7 linked regions of the Homo sapiens genome follow. The protein of the gene in region 4 purifies or fractionates together with the protein of the main gene of each other region. This does not show direct contact. Each region holds a gene or a part of one and is shown on either strand. Other genes may lie near its edges.

Evidence for each region.
Region 1: the proteins of TMOD3 (region 4) and COBL purify together in Homo sapiens (affinity purification with mass spectrometry; 2 studies listed by BioGRID and IntAct, with this or other methods). This does not show direct contact.
Region 2: the proteins of TMOD3 (region 4) and TWF2 purify together in Homo sapiens (affinity purification with mass spectrometry; 2 studies listed by BioGRID and IntAct, with this or other methods). This does not show direct contact.
Region 3: the proteins of TMOD3 (region 4) and INF2 purify together in Homo sapiens (affinity purification with mass spectrometry; 2 studies listed by BioGRID and IntAct, with this or other methods). This does not show direct contact.
Region 5: the proteins of TMOD3 (region 4) and MYO5A purify together in Homo sapiens (affinity purification with mass spectrometry; 2 studies listed by BioGRID and IntAct, with this or other methods). This does not show direct contact.
Region 6: the proteins of TMOD3 (region 4) and SPIRE1 purify together in Homo sapiens (affinity purification with mass spectrometry; 2 studies listed by BioGRID and IntAct, with this or other methods). This does not show direct contact.
Region 7: the proteins of TMOD3 (region 4) and MYO5B purify together in Homo sapiens (affinity purification with mass spectrometry; 2 studies listed by BioGRID and IntAct, with this or other methods). This does not show direct contact.

Annotation. Positions count from the first base shown.
Region 1 is NC_000007.14:51,314,010-51,318,297, forward strand, and holds the start of COBL (protein cordon-bleu), read right to left. Parts: upstream 2,801-4,288; 5' UTR 2,625-2,800; coding exon 2,584-2,624; intron 1-2,583.
Region 2 is NC_000003.12:52,232,659-52,236,158, forward strand, and holds part of TWF2 (twinfilin-2), read right to left. Parts: intron 2,449-3,500; coding exon 2,371-2,448; intron 1-2,370. UniProt on the Homo sapiens protein: Actin-binding protein involved in motile and morphological processes. Inhibits actin polymerization, likely by sequestering G-actin. By capping the barbed ends of filaments, it also regulates motility.
Region 3 is NC_000014.9:104,706,618-104,710,117, reverse strand, and holds part of INF2 (inverted formin-2), read right to left. Parts: intron 3,209-3,500; coding exon 3,067-3,208; intron 2,866-3,066; coding exon 2,116-2,865; intron 1,683-2,115; coding exon 1,531-1,682; intron 1,448-1,530; coding exon 1,386-1,447; intron 838-1,385; coding exon 735-837; intron 499-734; coding exon 413-498; intron 31-412; coding exon 1-30.
Region 4 is NC_000015.10:51,832,653-51,836,152, reverse strand, and holds part of TMOD3 (tropomodulin-3), read right to left. Parts: intron 1-3,500. UniProt on the Homo sapiens protein: Blocks the elongation and depolymerization of the actin filaments at the pointed end. The Tmod/TM complex contributes to the formation of the short actin protofilament, which in turn defines the geometry of the membrane skeleton.
Region 5 is NC_000015.10:52,522,381-52,525,880, reverse strand, and holds part of MYO5A (unconventional myosin-Va), read left to right. Parts: intron 1-1,678; exon of another isoform or gene 1,679-1,699; coding exon of another isoform or gene 1,700-1,798; intron 1,799-3,500. UniProt on the Homo sapiens protein: Processive actin-based motor that can move in large steps approximating the 36-nm pseudo-repeat of the actin filament. Can hydrolyze ATP in the presence of actin, which is essential for its function as a motor protein. Involved in melanosome transport.
Region 6 is NC_000018.10:12,449,060-12,452,107, forward strand, and holds part of SPIRE1 (protein spire homolog 1), read right to left. Parts: intron 838-3,048; coding exon 579-837; 3' UTR 1-578.
Region 7 is NC_000018.10:49,901,648-49,905,147, forward strand, and holds part of MYO5B (unconventional myosin-Vb), read right to left. Parts: intron 3,182-3,500; coding exon 3,025-3,181; intron 1,187-3,024; coding exon 947-1,186; intron 1-946. UniProt on the Homo sapiens protein: May be involved in vesicular trafficking via its association with the CART complex. The CART complex is necessary for efficient transferrin receptor recycling but not for EGFR degradation.

The sequences.
Region 1 (4,288 bases), on a different chromosome or scaffold from region 4:
AATTCCTAGTAAAAAACATACAATTTCAATCCAAGTAAAAACGTATATTTGTGTTTTTCACAAAGATAACTAATAACTACCTGTTAATAATTTAGCCAGACACAGAGTCAGTGAGTTTACATTCACCAACCTATCTCCCTTCAGTAATCTTCTAGAAGAGCGTTTGTAGGCCACAGGGTGAAATCTCGTTAATTCACTGCACCCAGTCTAGCTTGTTTCTATACAACACAAGGAGGAGTGGTAGTTTCAGCAACAGCAACAGCTTCACCACATCAGTTTGTTATCATGTGGGAAGACAGAGGCTTACTGAAAGTTTGATTTTATAATAAACGGTTGCAGAATCAGATGGAAAACAAATTTCCCTCAAGCACACTGCAAACACTGCCTTAATCTCAGGGAACAGAGGAGTAATCTCAGTGAAGAGCCAACAGAATCTGCCTGCCACCAATAATGTACTAAAGCCACAAATTTCACAGCAATATCTAACCTTTATAATTAGCAAGCATACACCTAAATTATATAAAATATTCGAAGACCTAACACCATTTATCTCCTCAGATTTGAACACAAAATTGCTTATTAAACACGTAATTCTTGTCTGAAAAAATATAAGGATATTAACATTTTCTTGATGCTTCTTCACTGAAAGTATTAACAAATGACAAAGTGAGAACAATAGAAGTTAAAAATAATATGTCTACATTTCTTGGACAAAGATGTTCGGACAAGTAAATTAGACACTGGATATGAGTGAGGGAAAGAACTGAATGCATCAGGAATAATTTCATGTTTTCCATAGCAAAAATCCTTAGTTTTACTTTGCAATTCAAATATGAAAGCCAATCAGAGCTCTGGGAAGCCCTGAGAAGGCCAGCCCTCGACTACCTCTTGCCACACAGTACCAGGCTGAAAAGAGTGCCACGCTCTTAGGGTAAGTCCTTTCACTTCTATCATTAGACTCCCTTCAAGGATCTTACAGATACTCTTTGGATACAGTTTTGCCGGCCTTTTAAATGTTCTCTCTGTCTTCATATTTATTTATAAGGTGATAGTGACAAAATAATTCAGTGTCCTTAAATAGGCTCATTTAATAGGCTATGAAAGCCACAGATTTAAAGATACCTCTGTTTCACATTTCCCTGTTATTTTGGGATGCCTATTACCATGAAAAAGGATTTCCCACATTTACTTTCTTTCTGGGGAATTTGTTTGTTCAAAGAGAATTATATAACCACCAGTAAGTGCACTGCAAAAAAAAAAAAAGAGAGAGAGAAAGAAAACTTCTTTTTAACATTCCTCAGCTTCAGGATTATTTGATTTGCTAACCTGGCTCACCTTTTCCTGGCATTAAAGGAAAACTTTAAAATTTTAAAAAGAGCCCGACTGAAAGTCTTTTACACACTTGGGCAACACGCCCGCCTATGGGCACATGGGCAGGGTGAGTCAGTGGGACACAACTGTAACAGAAAAAAAGATTTGTTGTCCCCAAAGCTGCCTCCTTCAAGTCCAGTTGCCATAGCAGAAAGTGGGCCCATTCAGTAAGCAGGTGCAGGGCTCACCCCAACCCTCATTCCATTTGCAAGACTCATACACATTTGCTCCAGGCGAGCGAGCGAGTTCGAAGGTCCCCGGCGCGCCGCGCTGAAAACTACAAAGTCCACCGGGACTGCGCGCTACCCCGCGGCCCAGCCTGCACCGCTGGCCGGGATGAGCACGGCGCACCTGGCTCGGGGTCTGAATAATGAGCAGGGCTGCTCGTCCTGTTTGAGGGAAATTACTCTTTCTGAGAGTCAAATCCTGAATGTGACGTGTAATCCCTGCACGCAAGGTGTGGGGATAGCAAACAGAAACCGGGAGAGGTTTGGGCAAAAGCGGAATCGCGAAGACAGGGATGGGCCGCCAGACTCGCGGGTCCGCTACGGATGTCTGCGCCTCAGGCCTGGCCCCACTAGGACGCCCCTTCCACTGCCAGGGGAGACCCTGGAATAAAGGCAGGGAGGGAGAGCTGCTGCCATGAAACCCTCCGGGCAATCCGAACACCTTCCGAGAACGCGGGGCCCGGGCGGCTGCGAAGCCGGGGAGCCCTCCCCTCCACGCTGCCGGGAGAGCCGATCCTGGGGCTGCCGCCGAGGCCGGGAGAGGGAAGACTTGATGGGAACCGGCCAGGGGCAAGCCCGCAGGGAAGAGGCCGGAGTCAAAGGCCGGGCGTCCCCTCGCTCCCCGCTCCACCCCTACGGCAAACACTTGGGGGGCCTGAGGAAAGCTCGGAGCTGAGTGGGGGCTGTGCTGGCGGGGACCCCCATAAGGACGCCTGCATACAAACCACCCCGCGCGAAAAGTGCGCTCCGGCCCCGGCCCGACACGGTTACCTGGGCAACGACCCGGGTGCCCAAAGTACACAGCACGCACCACCACCCAACACCAGCACCCAACACCAGCACCGCACCACCTGCTCCACCACTACCACCAGCACCCGCTGGGGCGGCAGAGAGGGCGCCCTGCCCGGGAGCGCGCGGTGCGGACGCGGGCGTCCGAGCCCAGGGAAGCCCCCTCTCCACCCCGCCCGACCGCGGGGCCGCTTACCCGGTCGGGGGCTTGGCCGCCGAGGCGCGCGGCGCGTCCATGGTGCCGGGGGCCGGGACGCGGGCGGTGCTCCGGGCCCGCCGAGTCAGGCGCTGGCTACCGCCGCCACCGCTGCCGCCCTCATTCACTTTTTCCGCGCTGACCCATCGTCCTCCCACGCGGGCCGGCGGAGGACAGCGGCGGAGCGCGGCGGACGGAAGGGGCTGGAATCGTCTCTAGCGGGCGGGGGCGCCGGGAGCGCAGGGAGGGGCTGGCGGCGGCGCGGGGCGGGGGCGCCGGGAGCAAGGTGCGCCGCGCCCCCGCCCCGGCTGCTCTGCCGCGCCCACCGGAGCGCCGCCCCCGCCCCGCCCCGCCCCGCCTGCTCAGAGTCCCGACCCGGCCCGCGGCGAGCGTCCGGGGAAGGAATCCTCCGGCACCTGGGCCCTGCACCGACACCCGCGGGTGCGGCAGAGGGCTTCTCCCCGTGCTCCTCCACCCCTGGGGGGAGCGCGACCCTCTCTGGGCGGAGTGGGGGATCCCGGGGCCGGCGCCTCCTGGCGGAGTTGGGGGAGGGGAACCACCTGGAGCCTGGAGGCCGTGCGAGGGCGAGGTGGGCGGACCAGCCCGGGAGGACTGACGTTGGAGGGTGAGAAGTGAGTGTCCGGCACCGCTCTCTGACCTTTATCCGTGCAGCAAATGTCTAGTGCGTAGGGTCGCAAAGTGGGAGTCCCGACCGGGAGCGTCAGGAACACCTGGGAACTTGTTAGAAATGCAGATTTCTGGGGCCCACCAGGTCCCACGGAATCAGAAACAGTGCGGGCTGGAGCGCGGCCTCGCTTTGCTAACAACTCACTCGCTCTAGGTGAATGCTCGCTTAAGTTTGCCAACCTGATTCACTGGGCGCTACTGTGGCACAACCCTGCCACTCCAGTGCGGGCTGGCGGGCAGATATGCAGGTCCTGCCGGCCACGCCGGGGCCCAGAGCAAGTCAGCCAGAGGTCCCTTATCTGCCCAACTTCACCTCCACTCTCTAAGATCTTGGTTGGTATGATGGGCTGACCTATAAAAGTGGCAGTTTCATATGGTTTCAATGACTCGAATAAAAGACCAACAAGAGGCCAGATCGGGCGAGCCTGATAGCGTTGGGGGTGACGCTCCCCTTGCGATCTTGTCATTGGATGAGGTATCCAGAGGCCTGCGCAGCCTTCCTCCCTCTGATCCCCTGCTTTCTCATTAACTGAAGGGGGGGCAGACCAGTCTATATGCAAAATGTGAGTCCTTACTCGTGGCTGGCAGATCTTGGGTGCTCCCTGCTCCCACCTAGAAGGTTTCCTAAGTCCCCAGGTGGCCCTGGGGCTCACTTCCCTGCAGCCCAGCCTCCCATGAGTGGAGCGCTTTCCCGGCTCAGGGCCTCTGGCTGGGATGCTGCTCCACAGTGCTCTTCCTCCTCCTTTTCATCCCGTGGTCTCCCCAAGGAGCCTTTCCTGGCCTCTCTGTCTAAAAGCACCCTGCGGAGCACAGTGGCTTACACCTGTAACCTCAGCACTCAGGGAAGCCAAGGCCGGAGGAGCAGTTGAGCTCAGGAGTCGGAGACCAGCCTGTGCAACCTGGGAGAACTTTCTACAAAATAAAAAAATTAGCGGAGCATGGTGGCACACACCTGTAATCCCAGCTACGGGGCGGGGCGGCGAGTGGGGAGCAGGCTGGACAATGGAGTGAGATCCTG
Region 2 (3,500 bases), on a different chromosome or scaffold from region 4:
CCTACCAGACCCTGGATAAACAGACATCCTGCGGCTACCTGCCAGCTGCAGTCCCCTCGAAAATGTCACAGATCCTTGCCGGGCGCGGTGGCTCACGCCTATAATCCCAGCACTTTGGGAGGCAGAGGCAGGCGGATCGCCTGAGGTTGGGAGTTCGAGACCACCCTGACCAACATGGAGAAACCCCGTCTCTACTAAAAATACAAAATTAGCTGGGTGTAGTGGCCTGTAATCCCAGCTGCTCGGGAGGCTGAGGTGGGAGAATCGCTTGAACCCAGGAGGCGGAGGTTGTGGTGAGCAGGAGATGGCGCCATTGCACTCCAGCCTGGGCAACAAGAGCGAAACTCCGTCTCAAAAAAAGAAAGAAAATGTCGCAGATCCAAAGCAGCCACCATCTAAGTGCCTAGGCCCCACAGGCCTGCTAGCTCCTTGGCTGAAATGGGGCATCCAGCTGCACTTGTAGACTGGGACCTCATCTGGGCACCAGACACCAGCCTGGGTATACACAGGTCTAGCCTGGAGCAATAACTGGGGCAAAGGGGCAGTCAGCCTGGCTGGGGGTCCTGGTGTCAGTCCACCAGACTCTCCTGATCTGGGCAGGGGCCCCGATGCCTGGACGCCCCAACAGACCAGGCCCTCTGAGGCCTCGGCCTCCTCACCTGCCCACCCAGAACTCAGACAGGATCACAGTCACAGTGACTTTGAGTAGTCACGGCCTGTGTTGGCCCCTACAGCACTGTCAACATTGCTTAATTTGTTGCTAACATTTTCAAACTGGGAAATTTTACATAAGAAGTAGAATTCTCAGCCTCTCTAGAAAAATCAGGCCCTCTGGCCACACTGGAGCCATCCTCAATTGGAGATGGACAGTGGCTGCCCATCGGGGGCCTGGACCCTCCTGGGCAGTCCCAGGTACCCCAACAACTGTCATGCAGAACTGAGATAAAAGTCAATCCAGAGATTCCTCCTGCTTAAAATCTTCAGGGACGGCTGGGCACGGTGGCTTATGCCCGTAATCCCAGCACTTTGGGAGGCCGAGGTGGGCGGATCACGAAGTCAGGAGATTGAGACCATGGTGAAACCCCGTCTCTACTAAAAATACAAAATTAGCCGGGCGCAGTGGTGGTCGCCTGTAGTCCCAGCTACTCGGGAGGCTGAGGCAGGAGAATGGCGTGAACCCGGGAGGCGGAGCTTGCAGTAAGCTGAGATCACACCACTACACTCCAGCCTGGGTGACAGAGCGAAACTCCGTCTCAAAAAAAAAAAAAAAAAAAAAAATCTGCAGGGACATCTTGTCTGGGAGGCAACAGGGAGGGCCGAGGACTGGGGTCAATGAGTACAACTGCCTTTTTAAGGGTGGGGTGGCTGTGGCCTGCCACTCCAGGAAGCCATCACTAATATTCTGCCACAGTGACCCCTGCCCAGTCTCTGAGGGCATCAGAATTTGGACTCCCTGGGCAAAGCACTGCCAAGGCCCTAAAACCTGGAATGGCAGATCCTGCTTTGAGCCAACACAACGCGTGGAAAGCCAGCTGAGCACCAGGCCCATTCAGGCAGCCATCCAAAGTGCCTGCTGCTGAATGGCTAATGAGAAGAGCTGGGAGGACCTCTGGGGAGCCTGGCCCACCCCAGTCCCAAAGTCTGTACCCCTCACCCAAAGGGACAGTCCATTGGCATGGAGGAAAGGTGAAAAAATGTTCTCTGGCCTCTGACCTCCCAATCCTCCTCAGTTTAATCCTCTGCCTCCCCAAACCCTCCCCACTTCAGGCCTCAGCTCAAGTCCCAGTGTCCCCAGCACTGCCCTCTATACAGCTCCCAGGTCCTCAGGGGCAAGGCCAAAGCCCAGCCAAGCCTAGAACCCTCCCATCCTACTCTCAGATGAGCCAGACACTCATCCCTTCTCCCCATCATGGGGGCACTTCCAAGAGAAGGGTGCAGGATCTCCTTAGGTCTCCCCTCGGACAGCAGCTGAGCCAGGCCAGGCCACCAACAAATGAGGCGGGTGGCACCAGCCACAAGGGGCAGTGCTGGATTCACTTATCCCCTGCCCCTCTGCCCAGCCCAGCTCGGCATCCTGGCCAGGCCCATCTGAATATCCATGCAGCCTCTGGGAGGTGGCAGGACCCCAGGACAGGGCTCTATTTGCTGACCCCAGCTTCGGCTTCCTGCTCTGCATAACAGAGGTGACAATTGCGCCCACCTCTGATGCTGCCCTGTGAGGCTCTCCTTTGTCAGGATGGCCTCACACCCATTTCCAGAGTGGGAAATTGAGGTCCCGGCAGGCCAGGGGCCAACATCCTCCTTCCCCCACCCACAGAGGCAGCAGAGTCCACCCCCAAGCCTATACCCTGGCCTGTGAGGGGCACTCACCGTCCTCAATCACAACCTTGATGAGCCGCACAGAGCCAGCCCGTGCCTTGGCAAAGAATTCCTTCAGCTCTTCCGTGGCTATAAGAACAAGAAACATGGTGGGGGATGAGTGGGCAGAGTGGACAGAGACGAGTATGGGGCCTGCTCTGTCCCACAGGGTCTGGTGGCTGAGCTGGGAACCAGGTTAAATACAGCCCCCCATGTGACTGGGAACCTGAGACAGCCACTGAACACAAGCTCCCAAATTTAGCCAGCAGAGGTGGCAGGCGAGTGGCCTGCTGGCTGGGATAGGTCTGGTGATGGGGCGGGGTGGGCAGGGATGGGACAACCCACCAGAAGATGGGCAGGCTCTGGCATAAGCCAGGCCAGCCACAGTGAATAGCCTCCATCTGCCCCCTGCCCCGCAGGATGGCCGAGCTCTGGGCTGGCCTGGACACACTCAGCACAGTCATATACACAGAAAAAAGAACACAGACAAATGCCCCCACTGTGCAATGACCACTATGCCCATTCACACACACACACACACACACACAGCTCAATCCAGCATGTGTGAATGTAACACACAACACGCATGTGTGACAGAGGAGCAGAAATTCAAACACCCTCATACATGAACACATGCTCAGTTGCTCAAACACAAATGGACACGCATGTTTAGATACACAAACACACACAGAGATATAGTCCCCGGCTTGCTAACACGCACACAGGCAGGCAAGTGCAGAGCTTGGCTGAGACGTGTGTGCAGGCAACAGGATGTATCAAAGTGTACACAGAAGCACATGGACACGCATGACACCCATGTGTGCAGCCCCAGTCCCAGCCCTCCAGCCAGGCTGTCTAACCCTGAGACCCCGAGGAGCCACAGCCAGCCCAGATACAGCCCTGTGGGGGGTGGGGGGACAACATGACCTTAACCCTCAGGCAGTTGGGGCAGCTTCCAGGAGAAGGAATGGCTCCCCGAAACTCACTAAGAGACTCCATCTTGGTCAGGTGCGGTGGCTCTCACCTGTAATCCCAGCAATTTGGGAGGCCAAGGCGGGCAGATCACCTGAGGTCAGGAGTTCAAGACCAGCCTGGCCAACATGGCAAAACCCCATCTCTACTAAAAATACAAAAATTAGCCA
Region 3 (3,500 bases), on a different chromosome or scaffold from region 4:
AGCAGCATGCACTCGATTCGCAGCTGGTAGCTGGGGATGGCACAGACAGGGATCAGTGGCCTGCACCCCCCACCTGTCCCTGCCAGAGGGGCACTCAGCACAGGGCTCTGGCTTGGGTGGTGGGCAAAGGGAGGGGGTTTCCACCGCCTGCCCCATCCAACAGGCACCCTCCCGGGCCTGCGCAGAGCAGGATCCAATTCCTCCAGAGGCCTCCAGCCCCACACTTTGAGGGGAAGGACTGGGGGTGGGGCTCGAGTGATGTTTAGAAGCCCAACCGCTGCAATGCTGCTCCTGGAGCCCGGGGCAGCCATTGGCACAGCCTCTTCTCCTCCCTGGCTGGGCCCTGCTCCCTATTCCTGCTCTCCTCCCACCTGGGGCCCAGGCCCTGGGGTCTGAGGGCGGCCATGCTCACCAGGGAATGGCCAGCAGGAGGAGGTAGAAGTGGTCGGCGCTGGCCAGCTTGGCTCGCTCCTCTGTGAATGCCCGCAGGTTTTCAATCTGCCAGGAGGAGAACGGCATGTGGGATCCCCCCATGCCAGCTTCCCGCCCTCCCGGACTGCCCGCCGGGCTCAGCCCCTCCAGTGCCCATCATGGCTCCCTGTGGCTCACGGTTCAGGGCAGAGGTAGGGCTGGGATGCCTCCCTTCTCTGTCTCCCTGCTGGGAGCCCCCGGGACAGCCTCTCCCTTGGTTGGTGGCACTAACTGGGGGTGGGGTGTGGGGGTGGTCCTCTTACCTCGTGCTTCTCGGGAAGGAGCTTAAGGAGTTGTTTGAGAACCTCCACATCAAACTTGGTGGTATCTCCAGCCCGGATCATAGCAGCGACCTCCTCGTTGGAGCTGGAGCAGGGAGAGGACCGGGCAGGGGTGAGTGAATCATGAGTCACCCCCACCCAGCCTCTTTGGGACCCCACCTGGCAGGGTTTCCCCACGTAGTCATGGGGTGGCCAGGGCAGGGGGGACACAGAACAGTCGAGTTGTTGCCCACGGTCACGCGGTGAAGGGGACCCAGGCTGACTCCCACCCTCGCTACCCTCCATGGGCCCTGCTCAGGAGATGCAGGATGGGTCGGGTCCAGCCAGCTCCCTCGGGCCAGTGCTGGACACCCGCAGCAGGAAAGGACTCGGGGGCTGAGAGTCAGGGCCCACTGGTTTAGCCACTACTTGTCTGTGGCCTTGTGGGGGGAGGTCCCAGCGCTCTGTCCCTGGGAGCCTGGACAGCCCCTAGCTGGGGCAGCATGGGGCTATTACCCGCCTACAATCCTGCCTAGGGGATGCAGTGTGCACTTCCCATGGCGGCCTGCAGAGGGCACTGCTGGGCCCAAGTCAGAAGGCTCAGGTGGAGGCGAGGCTCCGTGGCCTGGGATGGGGGCTACCTCCCTCACTCACCACTTAAATTGCTTCAGGAAGATGTTGAGGTTCAGGCTCTTCTTGGCATCGAGGAAAGTGATCTAGAAAACCCCCCACCCAACAGGCTGGTACCGGAGGGTGGCCAGGCAGGCGGCCCCGGTCTGAGTCCCCTCCCCGTCCCCACCTCCTTGGGCTCCTTCCTGGCCCGGGGGGCCACCATGGTGGGCTCCTTGGGCTTGGCTGCAGGGAAGGAGAATAGTCGCTCGATGCTGGAGAAGTCGGGCTCCACAGCCTCGGCGTCGGGGCTGCTCAGGGACGCCCACATAGAGTTGTGCTCTGTCGGGTGGGGACACGGCCAGTGAGGCTCTCGCAGCCCCGGGGCCTGGCGATCCAGCAGGCAGGGGCTGGAGCCTCCCAGAGGGTCTAAAGGATGTCCTGCCTGGGGCCCAGTAGGTCCAGGTCCAGCGTACAGCAGGCACCCTACCTCCCTACCTGAGCACCTGTAGCAGGGCCCCAGGGCACCATGGCACCCCAGATGCACTGGCTCACGGGAGCATGTGGAGGGGGGTCCTCAGAGGTAGCCCCTGCCCTGCTCCTCCCCCGTCCCCACCTCAACCACAGGCGCCGAGCCCAGAGCAAGGGCCAGGCTGCCCTGGCCACGCACGGGCAGGACGCGCACACAAGTTCCATGTGCCACCTGCCCCTCTCCCCAGCAGAGACCAGCCCCCGTCCTAGGGGAAGCTTCCCTTGGGGGTCTGGGGACCCTCACCACGTGCCACGTTGGATGGCAGCTTCTGCCAGTTCAGCTTCTTCATGCGCAGTGTGGGTGGGTTCACCCGCCGATGGCTGGGGACCCATGCTGAGCCCAAGCCATGGTCCACCTGGGCCACGATGACCTCCTCCATGCCTCCCGCCACGGGGGGGCTGCAGGTGCAGGGCAGTAGTGGAGGTGGGGGTGGAGGAGGGCCCCAGCCCATACCAGGCAGCAGGGGTGGGGGTGGGGGCGGGCATCCCAAGCCCGGGAGTGGTGGAGGTGGTGGGGGCAGGAACTCACAGGAGCCTGGCAGGGGTGGTGGTAGAGGAGGTGCTGGGGGGGCCATGGCCCCCAGGCCTGGCAGGGGTGGGGGCGGGGGTGCTGTTGGGAGGGCCTTAGCCCCCACACTGGGCAGGGGGGGTGGTGGGGGAGGGGGAGGGGGCTCGGCACTGGAACCAGGGAGCAGGGGTGGGGGTGGGGGTGGGGGTGGGGTGGACGCCTGCTGCTCCAGGGCTCTGGGCTGCGAAACTTTCAGGATGCTCTCACTCTGGGCGTGGTCCACGGGCTCGCAGGCAGCAGCTGCTGCTGGCTGCTGGCCCTCCACGCTGGGCTTGGGGGTTGTAGTGTTTTGCGGGGAGCTGCCCCTCTGGCTCTGGTCTAGGTTGGCCTGGACGCTTTTATGGGCCTTGACCAGGGGGCTCGGTCTGGGTCGCCCCTTGACAGACAGGAGCCGCTCAACCACTTCCTCCAGGGTGCATTCCTGGGCTGCAGTAGGGGATGTCCAGGGTCAAGGGAGAAGGGAGCCGGAGAGGGAGGGATGGGGGCTTGAGGAAGAGGCAGGAAAAAGCGGCCACCTCCCCTGGGCAGAGGATGGGTTGGGGCCAAGGGCAGGCTCCCCCCCCCATGGTCTAAGACCTCAGTGTCTGCCCACCAGGCTGTGCCTACGCCCCTGCCCCGCCCCCTCACCATCGCTGGCCAGGAGCACGGCCCGGTTCACGAGGCTCTCCAGGGCCTCCCAGAGCAGCTGGCTGGAGCGGAGGGTGGGCTCCAGGTGCAGGAGGCCCTGCAGCACCGACAGGAGCTGGGCAGACACCGGGGAGCAGCTCACCTGGACGGGCGAGTGTGGGGTGCAGGTCAGCAGCCGGCCCCTCCCTGGTGGACTAAGGACTGTGGCCTGTCTGCCAGGGTGTCCAGCCCCATCACCCCCTCTATTCCCACGGATCCCTAGAGATGAGAGTTTCAGCGACTGTGGTACTGGTGACATGTGGGACTGTCCTGTGCATTATGGGATGTTAAACAGAACCACTGGTCTCTACCTACTCAATGCCAACAGCACCCCCTGCCCAGCCGTGGCAGCCAAAAATGTCTTCAGATGTTGCCAGATGCCACCTGGGGACACA
Region 4 (3,500 bases):
CGAATTATATCTCACTAAAGCTGTTATATGTTAGAGAAAGGGGGAAGGAATGAATAAGGAAACCAAAGTTGTCCTGCATTTCCACAGAAAGGTAATCCTGTCTTTGAAAATCTTAGCTTTTTTCTGCTTCTATTTTAGTTAAGCTTTAGGATTCAAGACTCCTCACTGGTAAGTCCCCAGTTGTCTTTTCTCCATCTCTAATCTTTGTCTTTACTAACAAGGGTGATCTACCTAAGGGAGACAGCATTCACTAGTTACAACTCAATCTCTGAACAAAAAACAATATGCACACTATGATTACAATCATATAAAAATACGTATGAGAATGAATCAGGCCTGGAAAGAAATGAGGAAAAGTAAAAATAGCTACATAAGAATAATGAGGTTGGGGTGACATTCTTTTTAAAACTTAGTGTATTATCAGCAAATAAACTTAGAAGAAAAAAATAACCAAACTGTCTCCCTAAAAATTGTTCCAAGGCAAATTCAGAAATTGCATCACAAAGGATTGGAATAGACAATGGAGTAGAAACATGGAAACTAAGGCTGGGTGTGGTGGCTCACGCCTGTAATCCCAGCACTTTGGGATGCCAAGGTGAGCAGTTTGCTTGAGCTCAGGAGTTCAAGGACAGCCTGGGAAACATGATGAAACTCCATCTCTACTAAACATACAAAAATTAGCCAGTTATGGTGGTGCATGCCTGTAGTCCCAGCTATTAATACTTGAGAGGCTGAGGCTGACGGACTGCTTGAGCCCAGGAGGTCGAGGCTGCAGTGAGCCAAGATCACACTACTGCACTCCAAACTGGGTGACAAATTGAGACCTTGTCTCAAAACAAAACAAAACAGAAAAAGATGGAAACTAAAACACATGGCTTATATATAATTGCATCTATTTAGATCAAGCCAATAAACAAGAAATATTAAGCTCCCTATAGCTTGCTATGTTGGAGTCCTAGGTGATCTTTCCTTGCTTACATCTCCTTCATTCTAAACATCTGCCTATTTTATAAGGAAGATGCAATTGCTTCTAAAATGAGGTTGTCTCCATTAACTCGACCCACAGAAAAGCCATTTAAAATTCAAATTCATACTTAACATTCTTCCATCAGGAAATACATGGTAACTAGCCCTGGATCAATCTCAGTCAAGTCCCAATCTGGAAGAGGAGCATAAACATTTAATTTTTAAGGTCAGGGTCCGTGCTTAAGAAACTGACAATATAAGCACAACTAAAATGCAAAGTAGCTCAGCTGACACGCTAAGATGCCAAGTCAATCTAATGGAGAAAAACAAACAAAAAAGAGATGTGTTCTGTTTTGTCTTGAGACAGGGTCTTACTCTGGCCCTCAGGCTGGAGTGCAGTGGCATGATAACAACTCACTGTAGCCTCCACCTCCCTCAGATGATCCTCCTGCCTCAGCCCCCCAAGTAGCTGGGATTATAGGTGCATGCCAGTACTTCCGGCTAATTTTTGTATTTTTAGTAGAAATGTGGTTTTGTCATGTTGCCCAGACTGGTCTCAAACTCCTGGGCTCAAATGATCTGCCTGCCTTGGTCTCCCAAAGCGCTGGGATTACAGGTGTGAGCCACTGTGCCTGGCCGAGAAAGGGAAGTTTTTCTTAAACCTATGTTGCTGGAACAACTAGATATCTATATAGGTGGAAAATGAACCCAAACTCCTATCTTATATCATAACACAATAATAATTACTTTGAGATCAATCACAGACTCAAATGAAAAACTTAGAAAAATAAAGTTTCTAGAAGAAAAAGCTTTCTTTGCAATCCTGGGCACTGGTAAAAATTTATTGGTCAGGACAAAAAACACTAGCCATAATACAAAAAATTGATAAAACAGACTTTATAAAAATTAAAAATTTCTGCTCATCACAATATCATTGAGAAAGTAGACAAGGGACAGACTGTATAAAAAAAAACTGTCAACACATCTATCTCTATATGTGACAAAGAACTTGTACCTTGAATATATAAAGAGCTCCTACAAACAATAAAAAGATGAATGACCCAATGAAAGACTAGGTAAGACTTGAACAAACAATTCACAAAAAAAGATACTGCATAGCCAATTAACATATGATAAAGCACTCAACATTCTTAATCATCAGAAAAATGTAAATTAAAACCATAATGAGGTACAACCATACATCCTGTAGTGTGACTAAAATTGAAAAGGCTGACAATACTAAACATTGGCAACACTAAAAATACGGAGCAAGTAGAACTCAGTATAAACCACTTTGGAGAACTGTTTGGCAGATTTTTAATAAAGTTAAACATACACATACCCTATGACTCAGTAACTCTGCTCCTAGGTATTTATCAAGAAACTTGTAAAAGTATGTTCATAACAATCTTATTCCAAATATCCATCAAGGAGAAAATATAAATTGGGGTACATTCATACAATGGAATACTATTCAACAACTTAAAAGGACAAACCACTGATACTTGCCAACAACATAGATGAATCTTTCTTACATGAAAGAAGCCAAACACAAAAAAAGCACATGCTGTATGATTCCATTTATGTGAAGTCCAAGACCAGTCAAAAAATCTCTGTAGTGTCAGAAATCTATGGAGTCAGGAAGTGATTGCCTTTGGAGGAAGGTGGGTGAGGGAACTTTCTAGGGTGACTTAAAAAAAATGTTTTCTATCTGATTTTGGTAGAAGTTACAGTGTATACAATTGTCAGAACTCCTTGAACTGGATATTATGTGCATTTTATTGAATGTTAATTATACATCAATAAAAATACAAAGTAGCAATGTGCTTCAAGATACAGACTAACAATTTTGTTTCAAATGAAATTCAAGACTACACAAATGCATCTTCAGTTACACAGCATTTTCAATCATGTGCCATTCTGATTTATTCACACTTCTATTCTTTGATCATTGTAAATAAGCTAATGGATTACAGACACATATAGATAACAGAATGTATGTTCACATACATAATTTTTTATAAACACCAAATTAAATTTGATTGTTTACAATTTAAATAAGCACTTAATGGACCAGTTATAGGCCCAGTAGAATATTCTATTGTCTATACCATTTTTCTCTCCATATATTTGTGATTTTAAAGGATCTGACATAAAACTGCATGTAAATCAAATGTCAGCAAGGACTATCAATGACCAAGGGATGATAGCGCTTTAGCCACACGGCCTAGAGAATAATGCCCTCCTCATCTACTCTAATCGAGAGAGCTCATGCATATTAAAGAGCAACTGAAAAGTGTGAAGAGTAGTTTGCCAGCTACAACACAGCCTAAATATCAGTATACATCAGACTGACACCAGAAAACCTTACTAAAAGCCTTTTTTTCCTCTACTGTTTACTGGATCCTCCTCTTTATCTTTCTCCCTCCCTCTATCCAGGTATACTTTTATCCGCAAAGCCTCTCATCCTCCCTGTGATATTGCTCAGATATAATTGATTTTCTCTTTTGTTTTAGTTTTTGAGACAGGGTCTT
Region 5 (3,500 bases), 690 kb from region 4:
AGGGGCATAAATAACCTGCTGTTACCTCAACAGCAGGCAGACAGCTGGTATGATATTTATTAGTAGAAGTTAGGGAATGGGTTGGGACATGGGGAAGGTTGGGCTGATTCCAGAGATAAAAACTACTATTGTAATTACTAGAGGAATAGGAAAATCATTAGAAGTATTATCAGTGGATAAGCACAAGGATCTTCCCCTTGCAGAGGATTATAGGAAGGAAGTTCTAGGATAGATTACAAGGAAAGATGTATTAGTGATATGCCATAATTATGGTATTTAACATTGTGGTTAAATCTGAAAAGTGCTCTTTAAAAAAATGTCATTCAGATCTTAAGGGCAGATTTTAATGTGTGATACAGATCAGTTCCTATTACAGTGAAGGACAAGAGACTGTTCAATTTCTTCTTTTTAGCCAGAATGGTAATGGTTTTGTCACAGCAATTTAACAAGGCTTCCATTTTGTAAGTTTTTCCAGCAGTATAAACATTTTAAGGACAATAGCTAGGTTCTTGGGATACTTGTCTGGAAACGAATATTTTGGTTAAAACATGTTTTGTTGATTTTTAAAAATAACAGCTTTATTGAGATATGTGTCTTATACCATATAATTCACCATTTAAAGTGTACTATTCAATGGTTTTTGGTTTATTCACAGAGTAGTATGTTGATGTGTTTGTGGTCAACCTGCCTTGCTCCCAAAAGAATTAAAGGAAACTATGATATCTCATTGCTTCTGATTTTGAAAATATTTGCTAGTCTTGACTTGCCAGTGGATATCTATATCATACATCATCCATAGGTGCTTTTGGTAACTAGAAGCAATTCTACATTTGTGGAGTAGGGTTTATCAATTAGACCTAGAAGGATTATCGGGAACATTATAATGAATGGCATGCTATTCCTCCTGTCATCATGTTCCCAGACACCATGGATAGCACCATGGTATCCATGCTATAGGATGGTCAAGATTACTTGAAGCTGGGTTTTTTTTTTTTTAATTTTTTATTTTTTTTGAGACAGGGTCTCACTGTGTCACCCAGGCTGGAGTGCAGTGAAATGAACATGGCTCACTGTAGCCTTTAACTCCTGGGCTCAAGCTGTCCTCCCACCTCAGCCTCGTGAGTAGCTGGGACCACAGCTATGCACCCAGCTAATTTTTAAATTTCTTCTAGAGATAGTCTCAGTATGTTGCCCAGGCTGGTCTTAAACTCCTGGACTCAAGTGATCCTCCTGCTTCCACCTCCCATAGTGTGGGATTACAGGCATGAGCCACCACACCCAGCCTATTTTATTTATTTATTTATTTATTTATTTATTTATTTATTTAGGTTCAGGGTCTCACTCTGTTGTCCAGGCTGAGGTGTAGTGGTGTGAACATGGCTCATTGCAGTATCGACCTCCCAGGTGCAAGCCATCCTCCCACCTCACCTTCCTGGGTAGCTGAATCTACAGGCATGTGCTACCAAACCCAGCTAATTTTTGTACTTTTTACAGAGACAGGATCTTGCTGTGTTGCCCAGGCTGATCTCTAACTCCTCAGGTCAAATGATTCTCCTGCCTCGGCCACTCAAAGTGTTGAGATTACAGACATGAGCCACCATGCCTGGCTTATTTTTAATTTTAAAAAAGTTTTAATTTTTTTGTTTACTTTTGTGTTTTGTTTTGTTTTTACCTGAAGCTGTTTGATTAGGAGGTTCCCATGTGTGCTGAGATGCTGAGTATTGTAACAGTGCAAAGACAATCTAAAATTCCACATTTGCAAAGCATGTTAACTTGCCTAGATGAAACAGCTCTTAAGGTCAGTAGATTGTATATGTGTAACTTTCCATTCCCAACATATCCTCTCATATATACAGGAGCCACATGGCCTAGATTTTTTCTGGGATAGATCCACTTTTATATTCTATGGCACTGTCTCTTCAAACTACTGATCTTGGAAATTCTAATATTTTCATGTCGAGACTGTATTTCTCAGACTGCTTCCAACATCTTAAAGAGGAACAGAAATCTCATCTCTGATCATGTGCCCTGACTTGGAGTTTGGCAAGGATGTTAGCTGTCCTCAAGTCTCCTGTCATGCCCTTTCCATTTGAATTTCCTCCTGGTGTTCCTAGGCCTGTTAACGACTTGCTGTTCTCCTAGTTCCGCAGCTTGGAAACCTCCGTATCTTTTTTCTTGTCTTTCACATTCGACTTCTTCTATATCAATTCTAATTTCAGTTGACATCCAGCTGATAGCTCAGATTTGGAACTCCCACTAGTACTCTTTTTCTCTGTCTTAATGTCCCAAACATGTTTCTGTCTTATTACGGTTACTGTATTTGTGTATATGTTTACCACTCCCACGATACTCTAAGCCCCCTGACATGCTGTTTTGTTTACCTCCTGTAGAGCCTAGCCCAGTGTTACACAGAATAGCTGCTCATTGAATATTTGTTGAATGAATACTTAAGCAGGGGAGGGATGGAATGAAAATAATGGTTTGGCATGATCAGTCCACTTGTAGGGACGAAGCAGGGTATAAAGATGTGGTTAAACAAGTAAACACATTTTCAGGCATGTTGAACAGGATGAGTAATAGAACTGGGAACCAGGGAGACCAGGAAACTTTCAGGAAACAAAATGTGAAGTGGTGAAGGTCTGGTGGACTGAGGCAGGGGCAGAAGGTGTGGGAAAGAAGAGGATAAATCCGAGAGACAGGTCTCTCCGAGATGGATTACATATAGGATGGGAAGGAGCAGGAGTAGTATGAAATAATGCCAGTAGCTCCAGACTTGGAAACTGAAAATTAATTCCTGTTTCATCACAAATTTTGACTGCCTCTGTGGAACTTGAATGCTACTAAGAAATACTTCTTTACATAGCTTGACAAAGCAAAATGCCCATTATTTCCTCTTGAAATTTGTTACTGTTTCTTGAAGTGTGAAAGTTTTGTGTATTGTCCAGAAAAGATTACAGAGAGATTCTGATTCTAATGAGAATTGCTGCTGCCACATATTTTAGATCTTCCTGGTACTTTTAGCTTTTTTTTTTTTTTTTTAAATAATGAAAGAGAACTGGAGGAAGCTTTATGAATGGGCTTCCAGGGATTTAACTGTAACCTCAGGGGAGGGGTGACAGGGAATGCTAACTCGTGTATGGGAGAATGTGGGAGAGGAGAGATGATCCGCCTTACTTCTTACCTCAGAAGGTAATTTAGTTTCTCTGTTTTTCATTTTATGATGAATTTTGCCTCCATTGGGAGAATTCAGGAGTACGTGGTCCACTAGAGGATAGACTTGGATGTATTTGTCTCCACTTCAGGCAATTCCCAGTGAAGTATGAGGTACTGTTGGAAGTCTAAACTTCTGATCTGTGGAGTAAGGTCTGGCCATAGACAAAATATTATGTGAGCAATTCCACTTCTTCCACCTCACCTGAAGGCATGTCCTCCATCCTACAGTGGTCTTCCTAGACTTATTCTATTTATCTTCCTAGGGAGTTTGTCCTTTTCTCCCCAGC
Region 6 (3,048 bases), on a different chromosome or scaffold from region 4:
GCAGGCAAAAAGTCCCTTATGTAATTTTTATCTCCAAGCAACAACATTTAAAAATCAGTTGAAGAGTGTCAGCAGGTGCTTCTAGGTTCTGTGCTGTGAGCCCCCAGGTCGTGGAGTGTAGGGCTCTGGATCTCTCTGTACACGGGATAGAAACACAGTCACGTGGAAATGCCAATATGACTTACTGCTTAGGGCTGTGCTGACATCGGCATCTCTGTTAGACTGATTCTCGTAGGAGAAGCTTTTTTTTTTTGCCTTAGTCAGGAGATTATTCGAGGAACAGTAAAGAACTGAACTAAGGAAGTAGCTACTGGCTTCCAAAGCCACACACACACAAAAGTAAGTTTCAAACTGTTGTCCTCTCTCAGTGCAAACGAGCAATTGGCGGACCTGTCACGTTTCATCAATCGATACGAACACAGCATTCAGTCTGTGGAACAATGTGATGCGGCAAAAATCTGATCTAATGCAAATTCAAGCCCATTAAATAAAACCACAGAAAGGAGAGCCAGCCCGGCTCAGTGTCCTCGCGCACGGACGCTGACTCGTAGCACAAAAGCAGCTGAAAGGCACGAGGCTCAGATCTCACTGATCGTCCTCTCTGAAGGGCAGTACTCCGAGGGGCCTGGCGAGGACATGTAGAAAGACTGCGTTTTCCTTTTCAATCGGGCCCTTTTGTTGGCCAACACCAGACTGCGCCGGCTTGAACTGATGATTTCCGAAATGAACTTCTTGCAGTCCACACACACCTCCATGGTGCTCCAGTCCTCCATCAACTCTTTGGGAAACTGGAGTTCTTCATCTGATTTGTCCATAGACTTAGATTTTGAGGAGAACCTGGGGTGAAAACAAAACAGAAGCCCAGCATTGTTACTTATAGGTCTGCTGCAATATTAAGAAAATATGTATAAAAAAAAGTAAATTTGTTGTCAAAACATCATGGAATGGATGAGTGATTTAATCATATGTCCTTCTAAAAAAATTTCTTATTGGTGACAAGGCTAAAAAATATTACTTAGAAAAGAAAGTAGGAGGCCTAGTGCGGTGGCTCACGCCTGTAATCCCAGCACTTTGGGAGGCTGAGGCAGGCAGATCACCTGAGGTCAGGAGTTTGGCGAAACCCAGTCTCTACTAAAAAAAAAAAAAAAAAATAGCCAGGCATGGTGGTGGGCCCCTGTAATCCCCACTTCTCTGGAGGCTGAGGCGGGAGAATCGCTTGAACCCGGGAGGTGAAGGTTGCAGTGAGCTGAGATGGCACCACTGCACTCTAGCCAGGGTGACAAAAGCGAAACTCTGTCTCAAAAAACAAAAAAAGAAAAGGAAAGAAAGCAGAAAACATGTCTTATTAAGACAGGCACTGCCCAGACTATCGAACAATACAGTCAGGATGGCTAAAGGTGACCCCAAGAAACCAAAGGGCAAGATGTCTGCTTATGCCTTTTTGTGCAGACGTGCAGAGAAGAACATAAGAAGAAGAGCCCAGCGGTCTCTGTCAATTTTGCAGAATTTTCCAAGAAGTGCTCTGAGAGGTGGAAGACAATGTCTGGGAAAGAGAAGTCTAAATTTGATGAAATGGCAAAGGTGGATAAAGTACACTACCACTGGGAAATGAAGGATTATGGACCAGCTAAGGGAGGCAAGAAGAAGGATCCTAATGCCCCGAAAAAGCCACCGTCTGGATTCTTCCTGCTCTGTTCAGAATTCCACCCCAAGATCAAATTCATAAACCCTGGCATCTCTATTGGAGACATGGCAAAAAAGCTGGGTGAGATGCGGAATAACTTAAATGACAGTGAAAAGCAGCCTTACACCACTAAGGCGGCAAAGCTGAAGGAAAAGTATGAGAAGGATGTTTCTGACTATAAGTTGAAAGGAAAGTTTGATGGAGAAAAGGGTCCTGCTAAAGTTGCCCAGAAAAAGGTGGAAGAGGAAGATGAAGATGAACAAGATGAAAAGGAAGAAGGAGGGGAGGAGGAGGAGGAGGAGGAGGATGAATAAGAGACTGTCCATTTGAAAAAAAAAAAAGAAATAATACTAAAAACTCTTAACCACCCTTCTAGAATTCTTGAAAAATAGGGTATTCATCTGATTCCCAATGAACATTAGCTAACTGTAGATGGCAGGTCAGACTACGGGAAATTCAAGTAAATTTATCTTAATCCCATGACACATCCTAAAAACTAAATTTTGACTAGTTTTCTCATCATTTATGTATTTATCAAACAAGCTTCTCCCTCCCCAACAATTCCCTGTATTTGTGCGATTATTTATTGGGATTCCAAGGAGCTGGAGATAACCAGACCAACATCATAGTAAATATTTCCAGGAATGTCTGAGATAACCAGGAATCATCTACTTATTTACTATTTTAACTAAACCAAACAGGATATAAATGGGTAGTCTATAGTATGTTCAGAGTTAAGTATGGAAAACTGTAGCAGCTGTTATGTGCACTGCCTTGAGCTCACTGAAAATTCACACCCAGAGGTCTCAGAGGAGGCAGCCCAAGCACAGAGGCAGACGTTTCAGGCACAAGGTTCATGCTGGGCTCACAGCTTCCTCGCCTCGCTGTCCACAGAGCCAGGACATGTGGTTGGTAGATCAAAGCCCAGCCTCTCGGCCCTGCCAGCTTGAGGCTTGAGCTGGCCTACCTCCTTCCATCTTTCTTAAGGCCCAACACTAAACTTACCCTGCACTAAATGCAAAGGGACTGATACTGAGGTGATGTTTTTTCTTTTAAATTATTAGCTCTTGGCATAAAGCTTTATTTCTGCCTTTACAATAATAGTAAAGTCAGTCAAAGCTATGGCAGAACATTGTAAACAGGATTAAACAGATTCCTTTCAAAACTAGACAAGGAGGAAAGGATGAGACTGTTACATTCCAATTTTCAACTCCATTGAAAACAAGGTCAGTTTTAAAGATGACTCTTACAGGACACAGTAAAACAGTTATTTCTAAAGTAGAAAAAAATATAAACTCTGTGATGAAAGTATCTTTCAAGTAGCTAGCCATTATTCCTTGAAAAGTTACCTTTGGGGAAGTTTT
Region 7 (3,500 bases), on a different chromosome or scaffold from region 4:
TCAACTTTTAAGCAGAAGAACTGAATTCTGATTTCCAAAGCAAACACTCTTTCCAAAAGAGGCAGACAGACAGATAGGCAGACAGAGAGACAGAAGGGCAAAGTGATGCAGAGCATGGGCTCTGGAGCCAGACAGCTGGGGTTCAAACCTCGGCCCTGCCACTGCCACCTGTGTGACTTTAGGATGCCATGTGCCCTTCCAGTGTCTTCAATTGTACAAAAAGGGGGATGGTAATACTTGCCGTAGGAGGGCCGCTATATTAGACAAGCTACTCCAGTCAAAGCGCCAGCCCCATACCCCACACAGCAAGCCCTCCATGCACACCAGCTGCTGCTGCATTACCCTATGTCACCCCTGCAAGGGCAAAACACCAGCACCTTGGGCTAGTGTGTCAGTTTCCTATTGCTGCTGCAACAAGTTACCACCAAGTTATGACTCAAGATAGCATAAATCATTATCTTACAGCTCTGGAGGTCAGGAGTCTGAAGGGGTTGGCACGGCTGCATTCTTTCTGGACGCTCTAGGGGAGAGTCCATGTCTTCGTCTTCTCTGGCTTCTCAAGGCTGCCTGCATCCCTCCCACCTCTGATTCTGTCATCACTTCTTCTCTGAACTTGATCCTCCAGCCTCCCTCTTAGGAGGACCCCTGTTATATCAAGCTCACCTGGCTCACCCAGGATACTCTTCCCATCCTACAGTTCTTAATTTAATTGCATCTGCAAAGTCCCTTTTGCCATATAAGGTAACACACTCACAGATCCCAGGGCTGAGGGTATCTTTAGGGGTCACTGATCTGCCTGCCACAGTTAGTATCTGCTGTGGTCTGAGGACGTCTGTGCTCCCTCGGGTCTTCGGCATGTGCAGTTCCTCAAGGAAGCTGTGGGCTCTCTCAAAATGCTCCAGTACCCAAGCCCCCGACACCCAGGTAGGGAGCTGCAGACACTGACCTGCTCATCGATCTTCCGCTGCAGCTGGACCACCTTGTTCTCCATGCCCACGTTGAGACGTTTCAGATGCTCTGCTGAGCGGGCCTCAATCCTGAGGGCCTTCAGCTCCCGCCTGGCCTTGAGCATCCGGAAGGCACACTGGATGACAATGGCTGCATCCCGCAGCCGCTGGAAGTGCCTGCGTGCCATCCAGCCCCGCACGTGCTTCTGGATGGTGGTGGCCTTGTGCTCCATGAGGACCTGGCGGGAAACAAGGATACACATCTTGTGGGTTTGCACTGCAGGACAGGAGTGAAGGAAGCATACATCACTGCCTGTGGAGGGAAGAGGCCAGGGCAGCCTTGGTTCTAGGAGTTACACAGACAATGTGCCCCCTAAGATCTAAGGCTTTGGTGGTTGTTTTATAACACATTTCAGCGAGGTTCTGCGCCTACATATCCACAGGGAATCAGCTGTCAAACTCTTTTCAGCTTTGTTTTACTTTTTGTTTTATGGGTTAGGAAACCACAGTCTGAAAACCTCAAGGTTGTAGGGGCCTAATGATCATCCACTTGCTCTCTACCCATTTACCAGGTGGAGGTCCCCTCCTGGTGGCACTGAGCTGGAAGTGAGATACTTCAGTGAGTGTCCACAGCAGGCTAATGGCTTATAATTACAAACTTGGTGTGTAATTCACTGTTTTTTTTTTTCTACCAAGTTAAAAAACCACTCAGGATATGAAAGCATCATCAGTGTGCTCGCCCTAATACCTGGTAAAATAAATGTTTGTGGAATAAATGAGTAAACAAGCAAACAGGCTGAGCAATGAACAGTGCCACAGCCATGAGTGACAGAGCTGGGAGCCACATCAGTGCTCACTCTTTGCACATGCTGCCCCTGCTGAGAAACTCCCAAACATCACCTGCCCCTTCCATGGGAGCAGCACACCAACGCCACCCATCACCCAAGAACACTCACAGAACCTTCTCCCAATGGCCTGGGTTTCTCTACATACTACACCAGGGTGTGCTCCACCCTGACCACATTTTTATTATTATCAATTTCGTGCTTTACTTTTATTATTTAGAAAATCACACCTTCTGTGATCATAGAAGAGACAGATGTTCATTTAATGAAAAAGAAAACCATTTTAGACATTTCCTTCCAATTCGTGTTTCAAGTCAGCTCTGTGCTTCAGATGTGTTGGTGTTACCTGGTTGAACAGATGTGTCCTGATGTGGGGCTCCTGAACCCAAGGGTTTTGGCTTCACTGGAACAACACAAAGAGCAAGAACCTGGCAGGGAAGAGGTCGGGGCCTCCCTCCTGACCTCACCATGTTGGGCTTCAAGCTCCTGATCCGTTAAGTGGAGGAGTTAGACCTGATGATGCCCAATACCACCGCCTGCCCTCAAGTGTGAATGAGCCCTAGGTGGGTCACCTGGCCCTGCTGTTGGCTGGCCTGGGCCCTCAGGCAGGTGACCTGGCTTCTCTGAGCAACTCAGGTATCAGAAGGGGTGTGAAAACTGCCATGATTGGATGCTGGGCCCCTTCAAAACTCATGTTGAAATCTGATCCCCTATGTTGGAGATGGAGTCTAACAGGAGATGTTTGAGTCATAGAGGCAGATCCCTCATGAACAAATAAATGCCCTTCTTCAAGGGTGATTTCTCACTGTTAGTTCTCATTAGAGCTGCTTGTTAAAAGAGCCACTCTTGTGCTTCCTCTCTCACCATGCGACCTCTGCACACACCGGCTTCCACCTCCCACCATGAGTGGAAGCAGCCTGAGGCCCTCTCCAGAAGCAGATGTTCAATTGTGAACTTTCTGGCCACCAGAATTGTGAGCCAAATAAACCTCTTTTCTTCATAAATCACCCAGCCTCAGATATTGTTATAGCAACATTTAATGGACTAAGACAACAGTATGCACACCCTTCCTACCTTGTGGGACTTCAGAAAGGATTTGGTGAGAGCAGAGATGTGAAAGCATTTAGAAAAAAGTTGGGAGTGCTTGACAGAGGTTCACGTTGGCAGTAATTCATCTGTTGCCACTTTAGTTCTGAATCTGCAGCCCTGAGGCCCTCAGAGTGGCTACTCACCTGGCGGTAGGTTCTCCGCACAAACATGGCCCGGGTGAAGGCCTGGATAACAACGGCAGCTCTGCGGACCCTCTGGTAGGCCTGGCGGGCCCTCTGCATGCGGTAATGTTTCTGGAGCACCACAGCCGCTCTGATCCTCCGCAGGTGCTCAGCCAGCCTGGGGAGCAAGAGGAAACAGGCAGTGTCAGGGAGAGAGTATTGACCGCCCTGATGCAGAGAACCCTGAGACATCTGCAAATGCAAACCTCTCCCTCTGTGGCCCTACCTGGACACACCCAGGGGAAACCAACTCTCTTCACCCCTAACAAATGTAGCAATGCCTTAGGCATTTGACGTTGTGGCTAGAAAAGCAGTGTTAGTTCTTTCCTTATGGTCTCGAAAGGCTTCCCACAAGCTTCAAACTCAGTCAGAGTCTGACTTCCTCTATGATCCTTATCTGAGCACTCTTCTACCTCACTGTGCCTGGGCAGTCCTCA